Regions from separate parts of the Homo sapiens genome. Here region 2 is linked to region 1. Evidence: fine-mapped expression QTL. Tissue or cell type: gastroesophageal junction. Region 1 holds a variant in brackets; the other region holds the start of a gene. All regions are shown on one strand. Distances are between the middles of the regions.

Evidence for each region. PIP is the estimated chance that this variant, and not a neighbour inherited with it, causes the effect.
Region 2: it holds the start of ASPG, and the variant in region 1 is fine-mapped to the expression of ASPG in gastroesophageal junction (GTEx, PIP above 0.99).

What each region holds. Positions count from the first base shown.
Region 1 is chr14:104,162,161-104,170,583 of GRCh38, reverse strand. It overlaps KIF26A (kinesin family member 26A), which reads right to left. Exons shown (of 15, transcript NM_015656.2): 5 at 3,536-3,725. Among named protein-coding and RNA genes, the nearest start is that of KIF26A-DT, 28 kb to the right of the region's middle. RefSeq lists an enhancer at 1,022-1,734. The variant T/C (reference allele first, on the strand shown) is at 4,074.
Region 2 is chr14:104,083,013-104,090,222 of GRCh38, reverse strand. ASPG (asparaginase) reads right to left here and starts at 4,523. Exons shown (of 16, transcript NM_001080464.3): 1 at 4,371-4,523. The coding sequence starts at 4,452. It overlaps LOC124903408, which reads right to left. Exons shown (of 2, transcript XM_047432050.1): 2 at 6,528-7,210.

The sequences.
Region 1 (8,423 bases):
ATTTCTCCACTACAGCGTAAATCAAATTACCCGAGACTCATTTCAGAGCCAATATTTTTCACGGATTTAATTGTAAGTGACAGATACATAACGCCGGCAAAATTGGTTTACCATGGGTAGTTCGCACCAGGCGGCACCTACTCCCCCTGGGCATGGGGCACATTGATATGCAAGCCGCTGGAGTCGGGAGTGCCCGCTCTCCGGGGAGCAGCATGAAGAAACACTTTTCTATTGTACTACTCAGAACCTGGGCTCCATTAGGCAAGAATCGATTCTTTTATTCCCCCGACGACGTGATCAAAACTATTTCATTTCCAGACGCCACCACAAAGCAGACGAAAACGTGCACTTCCCGGTAATTTTTGGCAATTTTTTTTCCAGTGTGAACTCCTCACCACTTCAGGAGCCAAATGGGCTCTGCAGATTTGAGAGACTTCCTAGCGGGAAGGAGTGGCGTGGAGAGGCTCACGGTTTGGCTCTCTACGTCTGCCGGCCACCCTTTCCACCAGCGGCATTAATCGCAGAGCGGGCTCACAACCAGGAGGAAGGGGGGTGTGGGCCTCCCCAGGGAGGGGATGGAGCAGCCCACAGTGGGGGCACCGCCCATCTAGCCTGCCCCACACTGCCCTGGTCCCAGCGCAGGCCATTGTCTGCCGAAAGAGAACCCTGTCATTACTGCAGGGAAATGACAGGGTCTTTGCAGGAAAAGGCACAGCAAGCCTCTCCCCTAAATGTTCAGATATTACAAAGCCCCACGGAATAGCTGCCTGGGAGAGAAAAAACACATTTTGCATTAAAAAAGGGCTTCCAGCTCTGAAGAGGTAGCCCAGGCAGGGAGGGGGAAGGGCGCTGCTCAGCACCCACCCAGACAGGGATGTCTTTTTTATACCACACTGTGATGAATTATCTTAAGTAGCACATTAATGTCAGAAATTGAACGTAATCTAACTTCTTTTCTGTGACAATATTAAACGCCTTTCAGGCGGCATTTCTGACTATGTGACATTAGTGCTAATAACACCCGGGGAGCTGGGGGGTGTGCAGGGTGGAGGGGCTGGAAGGCTGGTGACCCAGGGCTCCTTGTTGCTGGGGAAGCACTGAGCACTCCGGAGCAGGGTGGGGGTGTGACTGCCATGGAGAGAAGGGAGAAGCCCGGCCAAGGCTGCCCCCAGGAGGAAGTGGGGCAGAAGCTGTCCCCTAAGAAACGCGGGGCGCTGGGAAAAGTGTTGCGGGCTCCTGAAGGAGCTGCTGACTCCTCTGCCCCCCGCCCCAACTGGATGGCACAAACAGGCTGAGTGCCAGGCCCAGGCCAGAGCCAGGGCCCCGATCCCAGGCTGGGCGGGGAACCTGGATGCTGCCTGCCCACCACCGCCCACACCTGACCTCGGCGTCCTCCTGAGCTCTCGGCACAGCTCTGCAGCCCACGTGGCCAGGGCAGCGGCAGCCTGGCCCCAGCACCCACCTGCCCTGTCTCAAGGAGACTGTTGAGGGTGGGGAGGACCCAGGGTGCCCCAGCCAGCCAGGCCTGGGCCCAAAACACAGGCTGATGCCACTGGCCTCGCATCCCAGGGGACTGTGGAGAAACAGCCCGTGCCGGGCACACGCACAGAGATCAGGAGCCCCCTTGTTCCCCGCAGACCCCCAGCAGTGCTAGGCAAAGAGATTTCCAGGGAGGCAGTGACCCCCGGCCTAGTCCCCCAACTCTGCTTCACCCACCACCCCCGCCTCACCCCAGGCAGGGGCCTTGCCCCAACCCCAGCGGAGCAATGACAAGTCCCTGATCCAGGCCACACAGCTTCCCCTGCCCCCGGGCCTTGGATGCAGAATGTCGCCTCCGGAGGACAGAGATGCCAGATGCCCGCCAAGCCCTCCTTACCACAAACGGAAACCAGTGCCCAGAGGGACAAGCGATCCATTCAAACCCTGGCAACTGGTGGGGTGCTCGGGGTGGAGACCCAGAGTCAGGGAGATCGGGAGGCTCCTGGTGGTCTCACCACACACTCCCCTCTGGACACCCATGCAGCTCCAAGGTGCCAACTGCCTGATGCCCCCACCCGGACCCGCCATGGCCTATGAAGATGGTAAGAGCTGTCAGGTCTGCCCCACAGGCCGCCCCAGAGCCCCTATGCCCCACGGCGGCCCTCCCTAGGGACCCACCACTGCCCCAGACCAGTAGCCACCGTCAATTCAGGCCAGGGCTGCCCTGGAGAGGTTGGAGGGCTCAAGTCACGAAATTAGCGTTCCAGGGGCTGCAAGTACAATGCTCGCTACATCACCGGGCGGGCAGGGGGCACAGCCCCCAGCAACTGCACCACTGAGGGCGTGGCCAGACACACAGTCACTTACAGCCCTTCCCCGTAGCCAGCATGTTCCAAACCCTCCCACGAGCCTGGCACCTCCCGAGCTCTAACAAAATCCCAAGGTGTGGCTGCCCAGGAGGCCCCTCCAGGACTACAGAGCTGTAAAGGTCAAGCAGGCTCTCACCAGGACTGCGAGGGGTGCTCCTGGCACCCTAGACCCAGTACAGCTAGGGCAGTGGGAGAGGCCTGTGGCACCCCCAGGCCCAGGGACAGGGGCCTTCTGCCAGGGGGTCTCCAACGTGGGCACAGCGTCCCCTCCAGACCTTGTCCCCTGGAGAGCTGAACCCCTGGGAATCGTGGTCCAAGTCCAGAGGGGCACGGAGCCTGATGGCCCATGTGGGGCACAGAGCCTCCCGGGCCTGGAGGCACCAGGCAGTGCTTTCGGGGTGCTGGGCGGGAGGGGGCTGGCTGCAGAGCAGGCCGAGGGGCAGGAAAAAGCCACCGGGGGCACACACAGAGCTGTGTGACTGGCTTCCCACCCTCCATGGGCACAAAGAGCCCACCTGACTCAATGGGCCCACGAACCAGGCACTGCCAGCTCCCAGCACAAGGCAGGGCCACGTCCAGCCAGGGCAGGTATTTCTCCGAGACTCGGATGGCACAACCAGCAAGCCACAGGCCCCAGGCTCAGAGCTCCAGGGACAGCCAGGAGCCAGCCTGTCCCATCACTGATGGAGGCCCTGTGCCCTCCACAGGCGGCAGTCTTCCCATGTGGAGCGCGGCGCCAGAATCAACCCATCACGCATCCCGCTTTCCCATGGCAGGGGCCCGCCTGCACACGGTGACTCTGGAGAGCAGAGAGTCCCCTCCTGCCCCCAGCCCCCTCAGGGCTGCGTCTCAGTGGAGCCTACGCAAGGGGCTTCCCTGGATCAAACCCAACCTTAGTCCCTGGGAGCCCCGTGACCTGGCTGTCCCGCCCCACGCTGAACCTAGTACATGCCCCTGGGACCCCTAGGACACGCCACTCCCCTCCCATCCCGGCAGTCCCAGCCCAGCACAGGCTCCCAGGCTCCCTGCTGCCACCTGGGCCTCAGTCTCCCCATGGCACCCCACTGACCACCCTTATCCAACCCAGAGAAGGAAGTGGCAGCCCCTCCACTCCCTCACCCCTCCTGCGTCTTCTCAGACGCCTCTGGCCTCCCCACCCAGGGCCCCGAACTCGGGGCTGCGTCTACCTTCCCGATGCTGCCAGGGTTGTCCTTGGTCTTGGAGGCGGCCCTGAGCAGGCAGGGGGGCGCCGGGGGCGGCCACAGCTGCAGGACCCCGCTGAAGTCGGTGGGGTAGGTGGAGGTGCCGCGGGTGGCTGGAGGCGGTGGCGGGTGGGGCTTCTTCCTCTTGGAGGCCAGGCTGAGCTTCTGCATAGCCCTGGGGAGGAGAGGCAGAGGCAGGATCAGTGGTGGGTGACAGCAGCTGTTCCTGTCACCCGCCTGCGAGTCACCAGGCGATCCCACCCTGGGACTTCATCAGCCACCATCCCAGGAAACCCAGTCCAAAATGTGGCTGGGAGGCCTGCACTTCATTTCTACAGTGGACGGTTCAGGCTGGGGCCTCCATGGCGTCCCTGCCCCAGGGACTCTGCCCAGCATTCACACCAAGCTTGTGACAGGGTCCAGACCCACACAGGCTGAGCGCCCCTCCCTGTGCTCTGCACTGAATGCCATCCCCCCACCAAGGGGTGTGCCCTCATCCCCCACCTGCAGCCGCTGCCGGGGG[T/C]CGGACAGTGAAAGCTGCTCCCACCCGATGCCCAGGCTGTGGGCAGCCATGCACAGCTGTGACCTGGGCACATCCACCTGGCCTGCCTATGCCTCAGTTTCTACATCTCCAAAGTCGGATGAGGTGACAATGGAGGCCTCTGTGTGGCCCTAATGGACTGACACACTCAAGGCACCCAGCACAGTGACCACATACAGGAAGGGCTCAATTAATCCTGCTGTCGAGATTACCACACCCCAAGCCCCAGGCCCCAGGTGAGGCTGCCTTGCCCCTTGCCGATCACCAAGGCCCTAGAGCCATCCTGGAGCCACTGCCCAGCTCCTGGGCCCCTGCCACCCTCGTCACTCAGGGCTGCTGGGAAGTGCCCCCGCTGCCACCCTGCCCCTCAGCCAGGGCGAGCGCCTCCCCACCCCAAAGCCCACCCTGAGGCTCAGCCTTGCCCCAGCACCGCCAGGGGTGGGGGATTCCTGCACCCACAGTGCCCCCAGGGAACTCCCAGAAGGTGCAGAGTCTCCCAAAGCCCCCGGACCACAGGACCTCCAGGGGAGAGGCTGACGCTTGGGTTTAACACACCCTCCAGGGGAGGCCAGTGCATGCTTGGGAGCCACTGGGGTGGACTCCCAGGGGACCTCGACACGCACACCCTACAGAGACACACACAGACACACACAGAAACACACACATGCACACAGAAACACACAGACACACATATGCACACAGAGACACAGAGACACAGTCACACACATGCATACAGAAACACAGACACACATATGCATACAGAAACACACAGACACACATATGCACAGAGACAGAGACACACAGTCACACATATGCATACAGAAACACAGATACACACACATGCATACAGAAACACAGACACACACATGCATACAGAGACAGAGACACACACATGCATAGACACACAGACACACACATGCATACAGAAACACACAGACACACACACACGCATAGACACAAAGATACACACATGCATACAGAGACACACAGACACACATGCACATGGAAACATACACAGAGGCCCACACACACACGCATACAGAAACACACACAGAGACAGACACACACGCATACAGAGACACACAGAACACATATGCATACAGACACAGAGACACATGCACACAGGGACACACAGACGCACACATGATACAGACACACAGACGCACACATGCATAGAGACACACAGACACACATGCATACAGAGACACACACATGCATAGAGATACAGACACACACATGCATATGGAGACAGAGACACACATGCACACAGAAACACATGCAGAGACACAGACACACACATGCATACAGAAACACAGACACATGCATAGAGATACACACATGCATACAGAAACACACAGAGACATATACATGCAGAGACACACACACAGAGACACACACACATAGAAACACACACATGCATACAGAAACACAGAGACACACAGACACACATACACATACAGACACACACAGAGGCACACCCAGAGACACGTGCACGCATACAGAAACACACACAGAGACGCACACATAGAGACACATATGCATACAGAAACACGGAGAGACATAGAGACACACACAGAGACAGACACATAAAGACACAGAGACACATATACAGAGAGACACAGGCACACAGACACTCAGAGACACACACACATACTCAGACACTCACACAGAGACAAGGATACACAGAGAAAGAGAAATGCAGACACACACACAGAGATGCACACACAGACACGCGCACACACACAGACACGCGCACACACACAGACACGCACACACACTCACACACATACACACACAGAGCACACACATACACACGCAGACAGGCACACACACAGAGTACAGGCCCGCCGCGCCTCTGAGCCCTGGCTGTGCTAACCCTGCTGCTGGGGATGTGTTCCCAGGTCCCATCACTGGGCCACACCTACTCATTCCCTGGGGTGGCTTCTCTGTGGCCCACCCACCCCACCTCTGCAGGGCCCCACACCCTCCCAGCACATTTTGTGCTGCAGGCACCCAGAGCCCCTACCCCGGATCATGGACCCACCAGCACAGGGACACCAGGACGCCACAGGGGTGAACGAACACACACACTGGGTGTCACCACCTCCCAACAGGAGGCGCTCCCACGCGGGCCAGAGGCCAGGATGCCACCCGGCGAAGGGTGTGGTGAACGCTGACCACCGGCGCTCCCCCGACCCACCCTGGGCTCCTCTGTCCCCTAACATGCCCCACGCCCCCCCCACAGCCCTCGGCCTCTCACGTCTATCTTGACTCCCTAAAACTGACCCCAGTGTGGAAGGACCTGCACCCCAGAGCCGGGCCCGGCCTCTCGCTGCCCCCACTGCGGCGGCTGCAGCGCTGGCGTTTTGCTTAATTTCTTTCATTTTGAATAGGAGCTGTCTCTTAAGAGACCCCAGGGACGGCTTTCCTCCTAGTGAGGTGTCATCGTGGAAAGTAAAAGTAATCTATGACACATGGTGGAGTCCTTAGTAGGGCAGTGGTGGGCGGTGCCTGCAGCCACCCAGGCAAGACGTGGAGCCGGGGGATGCCAGGAGGAAGAATCCCAGGAACCAAACCCACGGCTACCCAGGAGAAGCCCCGGTAGTTCCAGGTGTGGGAAGCCCACCCGCCGCCTCGGGGACTTGGGTTCCTTGCCCACAGCTGGCACGGTATTGGGTAAATGCTGGCGATGCCGGGTGAGGTCCAGGGGTCTCAGGCACACGGGCCTGGGCCCCAGGATGCAGGTGTGAGTCAGAGCAGGGGTCGGGGCCCATGGCCGCCCCGTGCCGCGCATGCTCGGGGTTCCGGGGTCACTGGGGTCCCAGGTTCGTGACCCTCTGGTAGCTGAGCCACACAGGGTGGGGCCCAACGCGGCAGGGAGGCCTGCAAGGGGAGGCAATGGCACCTGCATCGTGGGGCCCGGGCCTGTGTGCCTGAGACCCCTGGACCTCACCCAGCATCGCCAGCATTTACCCAATACCGTGCCTAAGCCTCGTCTCTGTAAACCTCACAACTGCCCTGCAAGGAAGAGGCCCTTGTGCCCTCGTCGCCCAAAGATCACTCACACAGCAGATCAGGGACAGGATGGAGGCCGACACACTCGCCCACGCTGTCTGTGTGTCTGTGCGTCTGTCCACAGGGCAAGAAGCCCGGGCAGAGGGGAACGCTGGGAAGCGCAGAGGGCAGAGCCACAACCCAAACCTCAAAGTGAGCCCCCATAGCGGGCAGGGAGACTGGGCAGGGGCCTGGGCGAGGCCAGAGGCAGGCAGGCAGGGCTGCATCTGCCCATTTGGGGGCACAGGTGGGAGGAGGCTTGGATTTCACCAGTGTCTGCTCTTGGGGTTCTTCCTGCCTGCCCACCACCCCAGCCTCAGCCTCCTGTTCCAGACCCCCCACCCCACGACCTTGGGTTACACCTCAGCTTCCCGCCAGCTGCCTGCAAGGGAAGAAGCTGCGGCCCCGCTTTGGAAAACATCCGCATCTAGCAGGCAGGACTGGGACAGGGCTACCCCACCCTGCTGCCTGGTGCTGCTCCAAGGCTGGGACCCCAGGTTTCTTGGGGCGGGGCGGGGGGAAGGGCAGGGCCCTGCAGGTGCAGGTGGGAAGCCCCCCACCCTACCTGGACAGGCAGGGCTGAGGACGGTCCCCACGGTGGCCCCTATAAGGGACAGGGAGCCTCCCTGGACCCCTTTCCTCCTCTGGAAATGGATGTGGGGGACGCCCAGCACCAGCCCTCACTGGAGGGTGTTGGCTCGGCCTCAAGTGGATGGGGAGAGGTCACGCCCACCCAGAGCCAGCTCCTCCACCCTCCCCTGCAGCCCCTCCCAAGGCTGGGCAGGGTCAAGGTACCAGCTGCAACCCAAGGCTGTGGGCAATAGGGCATCGGCACCCACACCCCCAAGCTTCCAGGGGACGCGGAGGCCGGGCAAGCACTGGAGACTGGAGCAGCACTTGGAGAGGCCAGAGGGAGATTGAGGCTGGAGCCTTAGGTCTGCAGAGGCCAAAACCAGGCTGGCCCTTTGCCCCGTCGGCCACACAAGGGCTCTGCCCCTCCAGTGACCCTCCCAGGAGCAGCGTCCGCAGCACAGATCTCAGGTATGCCTGGGCCACAGCGGGCACACCCAGGGCCCAGGCCGCCTAGACAGAGGCTGGGACCGGGCGTCCTCTGTGGTTCCATCAGCCCTGGAAGTCTGGAAGGTTGTTCGCCCCACATCTCCACCCCACAATCTGACCTAACTTGAGGCGCCTCCTCCTCCTGGGGCCCATCGCCAACAGGCTGCACCCCAGCCTGCTGGGCCCTCCCGGTGCCTGCTTTTACGGGCTTACCTCACT
Region 2 (7,210 bases), 80 kb after region 1:
CCCTGCTGTCCCTGCTGGGGGCATGTGTGGGCACCACAGGCGAAATCAGCCAAAGACAAGACTAAACTCTCTTGGTGTCCTCTTCTCTCAAGCAAAACACTCCATATGTGCTTTTGCAGTGGTTTTTATGGCTCACACCTGTAATCCCAGAATTTTGGGAGGCTGATGCAGGAAGATCATTTGAGCCCAGGAGTTCAAAACCAGCCTGGCCAATTTCTTTCTTTTTTCTTTTTCTTCTCCTTTCTTCCTTTTTTTTTTTTTTTTTTTTTTTTTTTGAGGCAGAGTCTCACTCTGTTGCCCAGGCTGGAGTACAGTGATGCCATCTCGACTCACTGCAACCTCCACCCACCCGGCTCAAGCAATTCTCCTGCCTTAGCCTCCCGAGTAGCCGGGATTACAGGCATGCACCACCACACCTAGCTAATTTTTTATTTTTAGTAGAGACGGGGTTTCGCCATGTTAGCAAGGCAAGTGAACCACCCGCCTTGGCCTCCCAAAGTGTTGGAATTACAGGCCTGAGCCACCATGTCTGGCCAAACGTTCCTTTTTCAAACCTATACTGTCGCCAGTAAAGTTTTCTTACCAACCTGCGAGTGGACCACTTTCCAACTCTGGGGCTCCAGCACTCACCCCGCAGTCAATGTGTTGTACGTCAGCAGCCATTCTAACAGGTATGTAGTGGCATCAGTTTTTTTTGTTTGTTTGAGACAGGGTCTCACTCTGTCACTCAGGCTGGAGTGCAGTGGCGAGATCTCGGCTCACTGCAACCTCCACCTCCTGGGTTCAAGCGATTCTCATGCCTCAGCCTCCCCAGTAGCTGGGACCACAGGCATCTGCCACCACATCTGGCTAATTTTTTTTTTGTATTTTTAGTAGAGACAGGGTTTCACCATGTTGTCCATGGCTGGTCTTGAACTCCCGATCTCAAGTGATCCACCCACCTCAGCCTCCCAAAGTGCTGGGATTACAGGTGTGAGCCACCGCGCCCAGTCAGCTGGGGCAATTTCTTTTGTTATTTTAAATAAACACCAGCTTTCAGCCGGGCACGGTGGCGGGCGCCTGTAGTCCCAGCTACTCGGGAGGCTGAGGCAGGAGAATGGTGTGAACCCGGGAGGCAGAGCTTGCAGTGAGCTGAGATCGCGCCACTGCACTCCAGTCTGGGCGACAGAGTGAGACTCCATCTCAAAAAAATAAAAATAAATAAAAAATAAACAAACACCGGCTTTCACACCTAACTATGATTTTGTAACTTGTATTACTTTTCTCAATGAGGGCCCTCCAAAAGCTTCAAGGGCTGCAGAATCTGAACCCTCCAGCCCTGCCTGGAACCTCTTCCTTGGCCCATCCAGGCAGGTGCCTGAGTTTGCTGGTGACTTGGAAACTCCTCAGCCCCCTGCCAAACACCTGGAAAGGAGGCTTTGCTCTCTAAGACAATGGGCCCCACTGTCACCAGCGAAGTCAAGCTTAGGCTTAGAAACTTGTGAACGTGTAGCACCCATTCAGGAAGGAGGTCCAGGCCAAGGGCACAGACGCCACTGCAGTAACCAAGAAGCCATGGGCATCACTCCACTGACACTCTCGACTGCTGGGACCCGTGTGGTCACCGGGCAGGGAGCTTCTCTCAGCTGCCTGGCCCCAGATCTCTGCCCTCCCTGCTGTGCCTGCAAGGAGCCGGGCTCAGGAGGGACTTTGGGACAGGCCGGCAAGCAGGTGGGGTTCCCAGTTTGACATAGGAAGTCTTCAAGTTTCTCGGGTGTACAGAACGTGGCCACTGATGCCAGCTTGGGCTTGGGGTTATCAGCCGTGTTTGGATTCGCTATGCCCCTTGACCTGTGATAGCTTCAATGAACTCAGAGAAGGGATGGGTCAAGGGGCGTCCCCACTGGCATCACCTCTGCCCTCCCTGAACTCTGGCAGGGCTCCAGGTGTGCAGCGTTCCACCCACAGGTCACTGTTTACCAGCAGGCGCAGAAGCCGTTCCAACAGCGACAATCAAACAGCTTTACTAGGGCAAAGCCACCACTCCCCTCTCACCTCCCCAGGGAAGGCCAGAGCCCACGTCAGCAGTGTGGAGGGAGTAAATCATTGACGCCTGACAGTCTGGCTGCTCCAACCTCACGAGGGGTTGGGGGAGCCCATTCCTGCAGGTTCCTGGAAGTGGATGCCCCACATGGGTCAGCTAGCAACAGCTGGGGGTGACCTCGCAGCCACACGAGGACGGGCTGCTGAGCAGAAGCCAGGACCCCAGTGCACAGAGCACCAAGGGATCTCAGAAGGCTGCTTCAGGTCTGAAGACTGACGCCCCACACCCAATTTCCAGCCTCCAAGTCTCTTGTTTCCCACCCAGACACAGGACCTCACAGCCTCTTTCAGAAATGCGGTGCACGCGTGTGAGTGCACCCACAGGCTGCTGCGGCGAGCACGCGGGGGCCAAGCGAGACGGGTGTGTGGTGGGGTTACAGAGTCCACCTGCCCCTGCAGCTCGGACCACTCAAGAACTACATGTTGAGCTCAACGAAACTGCAGTTGGCCACACTCCAAGCCTGAAGGGGTAGCGTCAGGGGCGTCGGACGAGGCCCCACACAGAGTCCCCAGGTCCTGTCCCCACTCGGGGGCAGCTCTGGCAGGCTCCGGCCCTGCTGGGCTCCCCACTCCTCTTTCCTGCACCTTGCAGGGCTGCTCCTGGCCTGGCCCTCTCCCATCTTTGTCCTGCAGGCCTTGTGTCCTCAGAGAAGCCCTCCCTGGGCTGCCTCCAAACTCCACACCATCCACACACCCAGCTCAGACCCTGTTATCAGCCCACAGCCCCTACAGGGCCCTGGCAGATCCTGCCCCTGGGACTAGCTCCTTAATGCATGCCATCCCTTCAATGGCAGCCTCTCTCTCTAGCTTGTGAGGGCCAAGCACAGGAATTGTGTCACTCTGTGTCAGTGGAGTGTCACACAGGGGCGTTTGCCAAGCTGTGAATGACTTTGTTCCATTCACAGGCAGAAGGAGAAGTGCAGAGGAGGCTCCCGGCAGCCTGGACAGCCACGTTCTTGGGGACCTGAGTCCCTCGTGGACGAGCCCCACTAGGCTTTGTCTCCTGGGCTGGGCGCAGAGTGGGCCTCCAGAGGGGTCTGCACCGGCCACAGTGTGGTGGGTGGAATCTGAGAGCACCGACAGAGTGCTGGTGGCTTCTGAGCAGCCACTTCAGCAGAAAGGGGTGGCCAGGAGGGGCAGCTGCCAGGGAACAGGCCGTGAGAGGGGGTGGGGATAGGAGGGGCGGGGAAGTGGTTGGCAGATGGGCAAGGGACAAGAGAATGTTCTGGTCATGCCAGGGGAGGCCCTGGGCTCTGGCAGAGCCGGAGAGGGTCCCAGCCGTCCCAGGAGAGAGAGCTGCGCTGGACACAAGCAGGAGTGTGGGGAGGGGCCAGGGCAGCAGGGAGTGGGAGGAGGAGGAGTGGAAAGGGCTCCTGAGGGAAAGGCAGGCAGTGGCCCATGGAGGGTCGCAAACAGGTTCAAGACGGGGCGAGGGGGCTGTCCTGGCCCCAAGGGAGGCCCCACATCACAGCAGAGCCCATCTGGGGGCCCCAGGCAGTGTCCTGCCCTCCTGGGGAACACCCAGGCATTCTGGAGGCTCCAGTGCAACCGTCCTCTCCCCATCCCGGTGGCCTCAGGCTCCCCAAGCTACCATCCTTCCTGTGCCCAGCCCAGGCTGGCAGCACTGTGCTGGAGTACCACAGAGCTCGGTGCCTGTCCCAGGCCCTGACCCCACCCAGGCAGAACTCAGTCCAGACGCAATCGCTGGTCTCTGGTCAACCAGGTCCACACAGGGGCAGAGGAAGCAGGGCTCTGAGGCCACCTCGGGTGTGAACACGTGCGTCCCCGCAGATGCCAGGTAGCCCCAGTATCGTGCCAACCACTGCTGCCTGACCAGGACCCCAGGGGACGGGGACACCCTCCTGGGTGTCGCAGTTGAGGGGTCCTCGCAGCCTCCTAAGCCTTCTCCAGGGCAGCCTCCTAAGCCTTCTGTGTCCAGAGCAGGAGCGGCAGGCCAATGCCCTGGGGCCCTCCCGCCCCATATTCCAGGACTTCAGGACGCTGGCCCTCAGGGGCGCAGCGGCAGCACAGGGGGCCTGGCCCCAGGGTCGCAGGGCGCTCCCGGGAGCACCGCGACGGCGAGAACCCACCGCAATCTCCTCTGTCCAGGTCGGGGCTCCATGCGTGGGGACGCCGGTGGCCGGAACCGGAGGAGAGCGACCTCAGCCCGCACCCCCCATCCAGGCGCGGATTTGACTCCCCAACGACCCCCGTGGGTGCAGGAGGGTCCGAGGCTCCCGGTCGCGGCCAGGTCCAGAGGCCTACCCCGCCCAGGGTCTCGGACTCACCGCCGAGCTCACTCCGCATGCCAATGGTGCCGCCGGTGTAGACGGCCAGCAGCCTCCGCTCGGGCCCCACCGCGCGCGCCATGCCGGACCGGGGACCACGGGAGTGGACGGGGGTGTGCAGCGGGGACGCAGGGCCTGCGGGACTCAGGGACTGCGCGGAGGAGGCCCGGGGCGCCGGGGGCAGCCTGGGAGGGCGGGGCCGGCGGGGGCACCCACGGGGAGGGGGCGGGAGTGGAGTCTGCCCGGGAGGGTGGGAGGCCCCGCGGAGGCGGGCGGGGGCAGGACCTGGGGGCGGGGTGGGTCCCGGGGACTGTCCAGGGTCGGAGAGAGAGGCGGGGCCTGGCGGGGTGGGGGCGGGGCCTGGCGGGGTGCGGGGCGGGGCCTGGCGGGGTGCGGGGCGGGGCCTGGCGGGGTGCGGGGCGGGGCCTGGCGGGGTGCGGGGCGGGGCGCGGCCTTGGAAACGTGTAGGAAGAGGTGAGGTCTGTGAGGGCGGCAGGGGGAGCTCCTGCCTGGGCAGGAGATTGGCTGGGGCCTGCTTGGGGCTGGGGAGCGCCTGTCCAGGGACTAGGGGGCAGCCAGAAAGGCAGCGACAGGGGTGGGGCGGGTCCTGAGCCATCCTGCGGCCATTGGCCCTCCGTGGCGGCCCTGGGTGTTTGAGTAGCTGTGACATGTGGTGCCTGGCAGACCGTAGTGCCCGAGGCCCTCCACGACCTGAGCACAGAGGGGGCTCCGTGTCCTGTCAAGCAGCCTCCACAGCCCCGGGGCTCCAAGGCCGGCATTGCTGCCCAGGCCCTGCTGTCCCTCCTTTGGATGGCCAGAGGCAGGCAGAGCTGGACCAGCCCCTCCACATGTGCCCATTCACACACCATCCAAGAGAAGAGCCCGAGGGGCCCCCAAGGGCTGGAGCGGGACAGAGCAGGAGTATGGCCTTCTTGGACAAACACCGCCATTTTAGGTTCCCTTTGATTAAAAAGCTGCCTAAATCCAGCCCAAAACACATCAGCCCAATAGCTAATGTCAGCACGACCGTAAACCACAAATAACATCTCCAATCAGAAACATGCCAACCTCGAGATAACCTCCCCTCCGACCAGAGACATTCCAAGCCCGCAATAAACTTTCCCTCACATAGAAACATTCCGAGCCTGCGATAAGCTCCCCACTTCCTAAACCCTTAAAGATCCTTAGTCTGTAGGAGAGATGGCTCCTGACCAAAATCGGCCAGAAGTCCCTTTCAGGTTTATTCTCCAAAATAAACCTGCCTTTGTTGAGCCGCTTTTCATGTTTCTTTCCTCTTTCTTTAACTCCTACAGAGCCCACCCTCCTTCACTCCCATGAGAGCCCAGGAGGGCAGGGCACTGGCGGGTGCAGGGTCCCAGGAGGGTCCCAAGCTGCAGGCTTGCTCCCAGGTGGACAGAAGATCCGCGGCCTCCTCGTCTCCTGGCACCTTGACTGCCTGGGGCACTGATGCACTTTGGTGGGAAACTGTGTGTTGCCCCCAGAAGGCACCAGCATTTGACACTGATTCCATAATAAAAATTATTATTATTCTGTTGCCTGGAGGGCAGTAGCAAGATCTTGGCTCACTGCAACCTGTGCCTCCCAGGTTCAAGCAATTGTCTTGTCTCAGCCCCCTCCCCGAATAGCTGGGATTGCAGGTGCACACCACACCAGGCTAATTTTTTTTTCTTTTTTTTTTTTTGTATTTTTAGTAGAGACGGGGTTTCACCATGTTGGCCAGGCTGGTCTTGAACTCCTGACCTCAGGTACTCCACCCACCTCAGCCTCCCTAAGTGTTGGGATTACAGGTGTGAGCCGCCATGCCCAGCCCCATATAATTATTTTGATAACAACAGTGCAATAGTGCAAAAGTAATCTTGTCTGCAGAGAAGCAAAGGCATTCTGCCCAGCAAAGGTCTGTGTTAGTTTTCTGGGACTGCAGTAACAGAACGAGTGATTTACAGTGCAAGGAGGTCTACCTCTCACAGTTCTTGGGGGTGGAAGTCTAAGGTCAGGGTGTCACAGGTTGGTGTCTCCTGGGCAAGCAGATGGTGCCTTCTTGCTGTGCCTCACAGGGTCTTTCCTCTGAGCAGTCACGCATCCCTGATGTATCTCCAGATGTCCAGACTTTCTCTTTTTATAGACATACCAGTCAGATTGAATTTGGGGCCTCATTTTAATTCAACCATCTCTTTAAAGTCTACCTCCAAATACAGTTGCATTCTAAGACACTGGGGTGTGGGGGACTTGAACATTAGAATCTAAGGGAGACAATCCAGCCCATCACAGCCCCCTGAAAATCCAGTTTCAGGTCCATTTGCACAATCATGTCAATATTCCTCATCTGTAAGTGTCTGTTTCAGGACTTCTCTTCTGAGCTGGTCCTCACAGCTGCCTGGGCTAGGGAAGCTCTTCGACGCATGCTCACCCTGCATCCCTGTGAGCACCATGTCTGGCCCTTTCGGGAATCATCCTTTAACAACCCGCCTGCTACCATAAATTCTAGGAAAACTTGTCTGGGGCCAGGGCAGCCTTCACTGGCAATAATCCTCACTGGAGTGGCTTTTCTCCCAGGTGCAAGGAGCCCCATCAGGTTTCTGCTGCTGAAACCTTGCAAGCACCAGGACTCGACGCTGCAGCTTCACCTGAAGACACTGCCGGTCTTTGGACGAATCCACTGTCCTGCTTTGCTTTTGTCTGCGTCCACCTACATCTACAGCGTCCTTGGACGGAATCTTTCATGCAATATATGTTGAAGGCTGGCTCTGTGCCAGATGCCTCTCTAGGCACAGGGGACGCAGCCCGTCCTTCTGAGTGTACCAGCCAGGGTGGGGGCCATA